Homo sapiens: one gene and its partner. The protein of the gene in region 1 purifies or fractionates together with the protein of each later gene. This does not show direct contact. Each region holds a gene or a part of one and is shown on either strand. Other genes may lie near its edges.

What was found. Proteins that work in one complex are often made in the same cells at the same time.
Region 2: the proteins of TMEM255B (region 1) and CSNK1G2 purify together in Homo sapiens (affinity purification with mass spectrometry; one large-scale study listed by BioGRID and IntAct). This does not show direct contact.

The regions. Positions count from the first base shown.
Region 1 is NC_000013.11:113,814,361-113,817,495, forward strand, and holds the end of TMEM255B (transmembrane protein 255B), read left to right. Parts: 3' UTR 1-2,635; downstream 2,636-3,135.
Region 2 is NC_000019.10:1,965,172-1,968,671, forward strand, and holds part of CSNK1G2 (casein kinase I), read left to right. Parts: intron 1-3,500. UniProt on the Homo sapiens protein: Serine/threonine-protein kinase. Casein kinases are operationally defined by their preferential utilization of acidic proteins such as caseins as substrates. It can phosphorylate a large number of proteins. Participates in Wnt signaling.

The sequences.
Region 1 (3,135 bases):
CTCACCAGCTTCCCCCAAACACAACATCGATCTTTCCCGACTTTTAATCTTGTCTAGAGTCAAAAGCTGTTCAAAAATATTCAACTCCAAGGTCAACAGTTTTGTTCTTGCCACAAAAATGTCCTTATCCTTTATCCCAGCCACAAAGAATGTGAACAATTTGACTCAAGGTTCGTGGTGGCTGGAGGGTCCCCCAGGTCCCAGGGCAGCTCCCACCTGGCGCAGGGCTCCGGCCAATGCCTGGCCTGCAGTGTGGGCGGCGGCTGCTCTCGAGGTGCACCTGTCTCATGTGGACGGATCCTGTCTGGGGCCACCAAGCTCTGCCAGCCTGAGTCACGGTCTGATGAACCCCCTCTCTGGGCTCCGCTGGGGCCTTCTGATCCCAGCCTCCTCTGCAGGGATGGGCTCCCAATCCCGCCCTCACTTGGTTCCCATGCACAGCCGAGGTCAGTGAGACCCTGGAGGCCGCGGGAGATGGGGTGGAGGGGATGGTGGGGCAGGGGGTGCTGGGGGGTTTGGGGGTGCTGTGGCCCCGGGGCAGGGGGTGCTGGGGGGTTTGGGGTGCTGTGGCCCCACCTGCACTCCCTGCCTCACTGGGACAGCACAGGAGACAGGCTTCTCCTGCAGCTCAGAGGTGGGGGCCTAGTGTAGCTGCAGGTTGTGACTGAGGAGGGCAGGGTCAGAGCATTGCCCTGGGCAGGGGTCCGTTGAGACTGGCCCCACCTTATTAGCTTGGGACCTTGGGTTACAGGGAGTCTCCTCCTGCCTCAGTTTCTACATTTCACACAGCAGCACTGCTCACAAGAGCTCCCAAGCAGAGGCAACTACTGAGTGGGGGAGGGACACAGTCCGTCCACATGGGGCCAACGGCCACAAAGAGAGGAAGGGACATGGGTGACGGTCCGTCCACGTGGGGTCACCGGCCACGGAGAGAGGAAGGGACATGGGTGACGGTCCGTCCACGTGGGGTCACCGGCCACGGAGAGAGGAAGGGACATGGGTGACGGTCCGTCCACATGGGGTCACCGGCCACGGAGAGAGGAAGGGACATGGGTGATATGGTTTTGCTGTGTCCCCACCCAAATCTCAACTTGAATTGTATTTCCCAGAATTCCTGCGCGTTGTGGGAGGGACCCAGCGGGAGGTAATTGAATCATGGTGGCTGGTCTTTCCCGTGCTATTCTCGTGATAGTGAGTAAGTCTCACGAGATCTGACTGGTTGATCAGGATTTCCGCTTTTGCTTCTTCCTCATTTTCTCTTGCTCCTGCCGTGTAAGAAGTGCCTTTTGCCTCCCACCGTGATTCTGAGGCCTCCCCAACCATGTGCAATTGTAAGTCCCGTTAAACCTCTTTTTTTCCCAGTCTCGGGTATGTCCTTATTAGCAGTGTGAAAACAGAATACTACAGTGGTCCATCCACACGCGGGTCTCACCCAGCCACAGAGAGGGAGAGGACGTGGCCCATCCACACGCGGGTCACCCGGCCACGGAGAGGAAGGAAGCTCTAACGGGTGCTGAGGCTGTAACACACAGTGCTCAGGGAAGGACACCAGACATGAAGACTGTGTTCTGTTTATATGCAGTGTCCAGAGAAGGCGTGTCCACAGACAGAAGCCGACTGGGAAAGGAGGTGCAGTCACTGCTCAGGGACACGGGTTCTTTTCGGGGAGGCAAGCGTGTTCGCAGCGTGTTCTGTATGGGGAGAGATGCAGTCACTGCTCAGGGACACGGGTTCTTTTCGGGGAGGCAAGCGTGTTTGCAGCGTGTTCTGGATGGGGAGAGGTGCAGTTACTGGTCAGGGACACGAGTTCTTTTCGGGGAGGCAAGCGTGTTTGCAGCGTGTTCTGGATGGGGAGAGGTGCAGTCACTGGTCAGGGATACGAGTTCTTTTCGGGGAGGCAAGTGTGTTCTAAGCGTGTTCTGGATGGGGAGAGGTGCAGTCACTGGTCAGGGACACGAGTTCTTGTGGGAAGAGGAGTGTCCGGGAGCCAGATGGCAGTGATGGGTGGACGGCCCCGTGGATGGACTGACCACCGACCCATGCTCTGCACTCATGAGGCGTGGCTATTGCTGTGTGAATCACATCTCCATGGAAACGGGAGTGGGAGAAACGGGCCCCAAGGATGTTGTGAAGATGGCCTTATGGGGCTGCACTGGTGACTTGGACAGTGCTGGCCACCGGCCCTGCTCAGTGAACAAGAGCCATGGTCATCACCCTCGCCACACAGAGCAGCTCCTCCTGCAGACTTGGGGACCCCGTGGCCACCAGACCCCGCGGTGGGAGCAGAGATGCCTCCGAAACTCTGGAGACCCACAGAGGCAGAAGAGGATTCCACGAGGCCGGGGCCCGTCAGCAGATCCTCAGACGGCGACACGCGCCACTTCCTTTTCTGTTTCCTAGACCTTTTAACTGATGGAATTCAGTAAGCAGAAAACGTGCTTGAAACAAGGGCACCATGGAGCGGACCCTCCCCCTCTCCCCTCGTGGAGTCCTTGACCCTGGGGCAGGTGACCCTTCTTGCTTTGCAGGCAGGGGCTGTGGCTGGAGCTTCTCCTACAAATGGGCTGTGCTGGGATTAGCCCGGCTGTACATTTGCTTTATGCTTCCGTTGGCATTTAAAAATCTGATGTTCATATTTGCCGTATTACGTGAAGTAGGACGAAACGTTCCTTCTTGCTTAGAGCAGTGTTTCCCCAGAGGTGCCCGGGCCCAGGGGACAGTGGCCAACCTCTGGAGACATTTCGTGTTGTCATGAGGCTGGGTGTCCAGGAGGGGGCGATGCTGCATCTGCTGTGCACAGGACGCGGCCACATCAAAGGACCCCACCTGCAAAACACATGCCCAACCTCCTTCCTCCTCTCCAGCCCAGAGTCAGGGCTGTCCCCCCTCCCTCCAGGGGACACATCCCCCCTCCCTCCACGGGATACATCCCCCCTCCCTCCACGGGACACATCCCTCCTCCCCCCACGGGACACATCCCCCCTCCCCCCACGGGACACATCCCCCCTCCCTCCAGGGGACACATCCCCCCTCCCTCCACGGGACACATCCCCCCTCCCTCCACGGGACACATCCCCCCTCCCTCCAGGGAACACATCCCCCCTCCCTCCAGGGGGCACATCCCCCCTCCCTCCA
Region 2 (3,500 bases), on another chromosome or scaffold:
GATCACGAGGTCAGGAGATCGAGACCACAGTGAAACCGCGTCTCTACTAAAAATACAAAAAATTAACCGGCCGTGGTGGCGGGCGCCTTTAGTCCCAGCTACTCAGGAGGCTGAGGCAGGAGAATGGCATGAACCCAGGAGGCGGAGGTTGCAGTGAGCCGAGATTGTGCCACTGCACTCCAGCCTGGGCGACAGAGCGAGACTCCGTTTCCAAAAAAAAAAAAAAGATCATTGTTTCCATCCCTGCTAGCACAACATCCAGCCTGTAGCCTGTGGATCAATGAATGAATGAATGACTCGGAAATCAAGATGACTCCTTGACATGTCATTCATTCATTTATTTATGCATGACAAGGTGTCCCACTGTCACCCAGGCTGGAGTGCAGTAGCACGATCTTGGCTCACTGCATCCTCCACCTCCCGGGTTGAAGCAATTGTCTTTCCTCAGCCTCCTGAGTAGCTGGGGCTACAGGTGCGTGCCACCATGCCCAGCTAATTTTTATATTTTTTCATAGGGGGTTTCACCATGTTCCTCAGGCTGGTCTTGAACTCCTGAGCTCAAAGCAGTCTGCCCGCCTCAGCCTCCCAAAGTGCTGGGACTACAGGCCTGAGCCACTGTGCCTGGCCAAGTCTTAGTGTTTTTGAGGCACGGTCTCACTGTGTCTCCCAGGCTGCAGTGGAGAAGCAGAATCACAGCTCACTTTAGCCTCCACCTCCCAGGCTCAAGCGATCCTCTCACCTCAGTCTCCTAAGTAGCTAGGACCACAGGTGCGCACCGCCATGACTGGCTAATTTTGTTTTTATTTTTGTAAAGATAGGGTCTCCCTGTGTTGCCCAGGCTGGTCTTGAACTCCCGGCCTCAAGCAGTCTGCCTGCGTCAGCCTCCCAAAGTGTCGGGGTTACAGGCAGGAGCCACCGCAGCCGCCCATGACTCTCATTATTGAGAAATACATTTGTAAGGCTCTAGGTGCCTGTAGGTGCCGTGGAGAGCAATTCCTCTGATGGAGCTGGGGAAATTGGGTAAATTGAAACCCCCGGAAAGGCTTTGCCGTTCTAGAGGCTGTGAAGGACACGCGTGATCCATGGGAGGAGGTAACATGTCAGGATGAGCGGAAGTTTGGAAGAAGTTGGTCCCAGGCCTGAAAGATCACTGTGAGGGTTCAGGACTTCAGTGGAGGAGGGACTGTAGAGGTTTTAGAAGCAGCAAGAGAACTAGAATGAGAAGGACTTGGAGATGTGACTGCATTGTCGCTGTCTCGCGAGAAAACTTTAACACGTGAGGAGTTGCCTCTGAAGGGTGAGCAGGGGAGTTGCTTCAGTTGCGCTCTAGTCCCAGTGAAGATTCTGTGAACCTGGGGGTAATGAGGACAAAGAACTTGGAACAGCCCGGAACCTCGGTTGATGAAGCCGCGGCCGGGTTGAGAGGACCGACTGCAGTTCTGAAAGACGTTCTGCTGTGGGTAATCAATGCTATCAGACAGCATCACGCCCCACAGAGAAATCTTTCATGAAAGGAAGAGTCCATCGCTGTGGCCAACTTTTTTGTGGTCATAGTTTAAGAAGTTGCCCCAGCCTCCAGCAGCCACCGCCCCAACGAGTCAGCCGCCGTCCACATTGAGGCAAGACCCTTCTCCGGGGAGATTAGGGCCACTCCCGGTTCCCATGATCATTACCATTGCTTAGCAGTAAAGTATTTTTATTTCTTTATTATTTATTTAAGATGGGGTCTTGCTGTATCCCCCAGGCTGGAGTGCAGTGGTGCGATCATAGCTCACTGCAGCCTCCGCCTCCTGGGCTCAAACGATCCTCCCGCCTCAGTCTCCCGAGTAGCTGGGACCACAGGCTTGCACACCACGCCCCGCTTAATTAAAGTGTGTCCTTTGATTAGACACAACGCTACTGCACACTTCCTAGACCACGGTATACTGTGAACGTAACTTGTGTGTGCACTGGGAAACCAGAACATTCGAGCGGCTGTTGCCGTGCGGAACCCAAGGCCTGTGATCCCCACAGGGTGTTTCTGGCACCGGAACGCAGGGGCCACATCCAGGGGGGCAGTGCTTGTGACGCCGGTGCCTTCGTTTCTGATGTGGCTTACTCAGCTGGGAGTTCCTGTCCTAACATTTTCGGCGATGGCTGTGCACCCACGGCCCCTCTTCACCCGCGGCCCCTACGTCCTGCCGGTTGGCAGGAAACCTCTTCCCCTGCACATCTGGGGCACAGCAGCAAACTGTGGTCCCCCTTCTTCAGTGAGGGTGGGGCTTCTGTCTGTCTGGAGCCCTAGAATGGGGCCAGGGGTGGCTGGGGCCTGGGTCAGGGAGGACCCGGCAGGATCTGTGCAGACAGGCAGGTGGCTGCGGTGGCTCCCGGTGCAGGGTTCTTGGCCTCCTGGGCGGGTACCTGGCTTGAGGGCGACGAGGTGACAGCCGCGTCCCTGGGGTTGCACCACCCGAGCGTCCAGTTAACACCACAGCTGCCACCCTTCAGTTCTGCAGGTGGGGCTCCTCCCTCCTCCCCAGGCTGCCCCCACCACCCTTCAGTTCTGCAGGTGGGGCTCCTCCTTCCTCCCTCCTCCCCAGGCTGCCCCCGACCACCCTTCAGTTCTGCAGGTGGGGCTCCTCCTTCCTCCCTCCTCCCCAGGCTGCCCCCGACCACCCTTCAGTTCTGCAGGTGGGGCTCCTCCCTCCTCCCTTCTCCCCAGGCTGCCCCCGACCACCCTTCAGTTCTGCAGGTGGGGCTCCTCCCTCCTCCCTTCTCCCCAGGCTGCCCCCGACCACCCTTCAGTTCTGCAGGTGGGGCTCCTCCCTCCTCCCCAGGCTGCCCCCGACCACCCTTCAGTTCTGCAGGTGGGGGCTCCTCCCTCCTCCCCAGGCTGCCCCCACCACCCTTCAGTTCTGCAGGTGGGGCTCCTCCCTCCTCCCTCCTCCCCAGGCTGCCCCCGACCACCCTTCAGTTCTGCAGGTGGGGCTCCTCCCCAGGCTGTCCCTGACCACCCTTCAGTTCTGCAGGTGGGGCTCCTCCCTCCTCCCTCCTCCCCAGGCTGCCCCAGACCACCCTTCAGTTCTGCAGGTGGGGCTCCTCCCTCCTCCCCAGGCTGCCCCCGACCACCCTTCAGTTCTGCAGGTGGGGGCTCCTCCCTCCTCCCCAGGCTGCCCCTGACCACCCTTCAGTTCTGCAGGTGGGGCTCCTCCCTCCTCCCTCCTCCCCAGGCTGTCCCGAGGCTCCTTGCTGGGGACCGTCCTGCCTCCCGTCGGGGCCTGCGCTGAGACTGGGCTCCATGCCAGCCGGGGCTGGCTGGCCCCCTCGCTCCAGAGAGCGACCTGCACAGAGTCCCCTCAGCCATGAGCCCCTGTCCAGACACGGCGTTTCTCTGTGGGTGGCAACAGGCTCTGGGGCCCTCAGCTCTGGGCTCGGGAGCATTTAAGGTGGTGCAGACTCAGCGAGGGGCTGTGGGCTGGGGTCCCACCATCCCGGGAGCAGGGACTGCGTGTTCCTTCTCA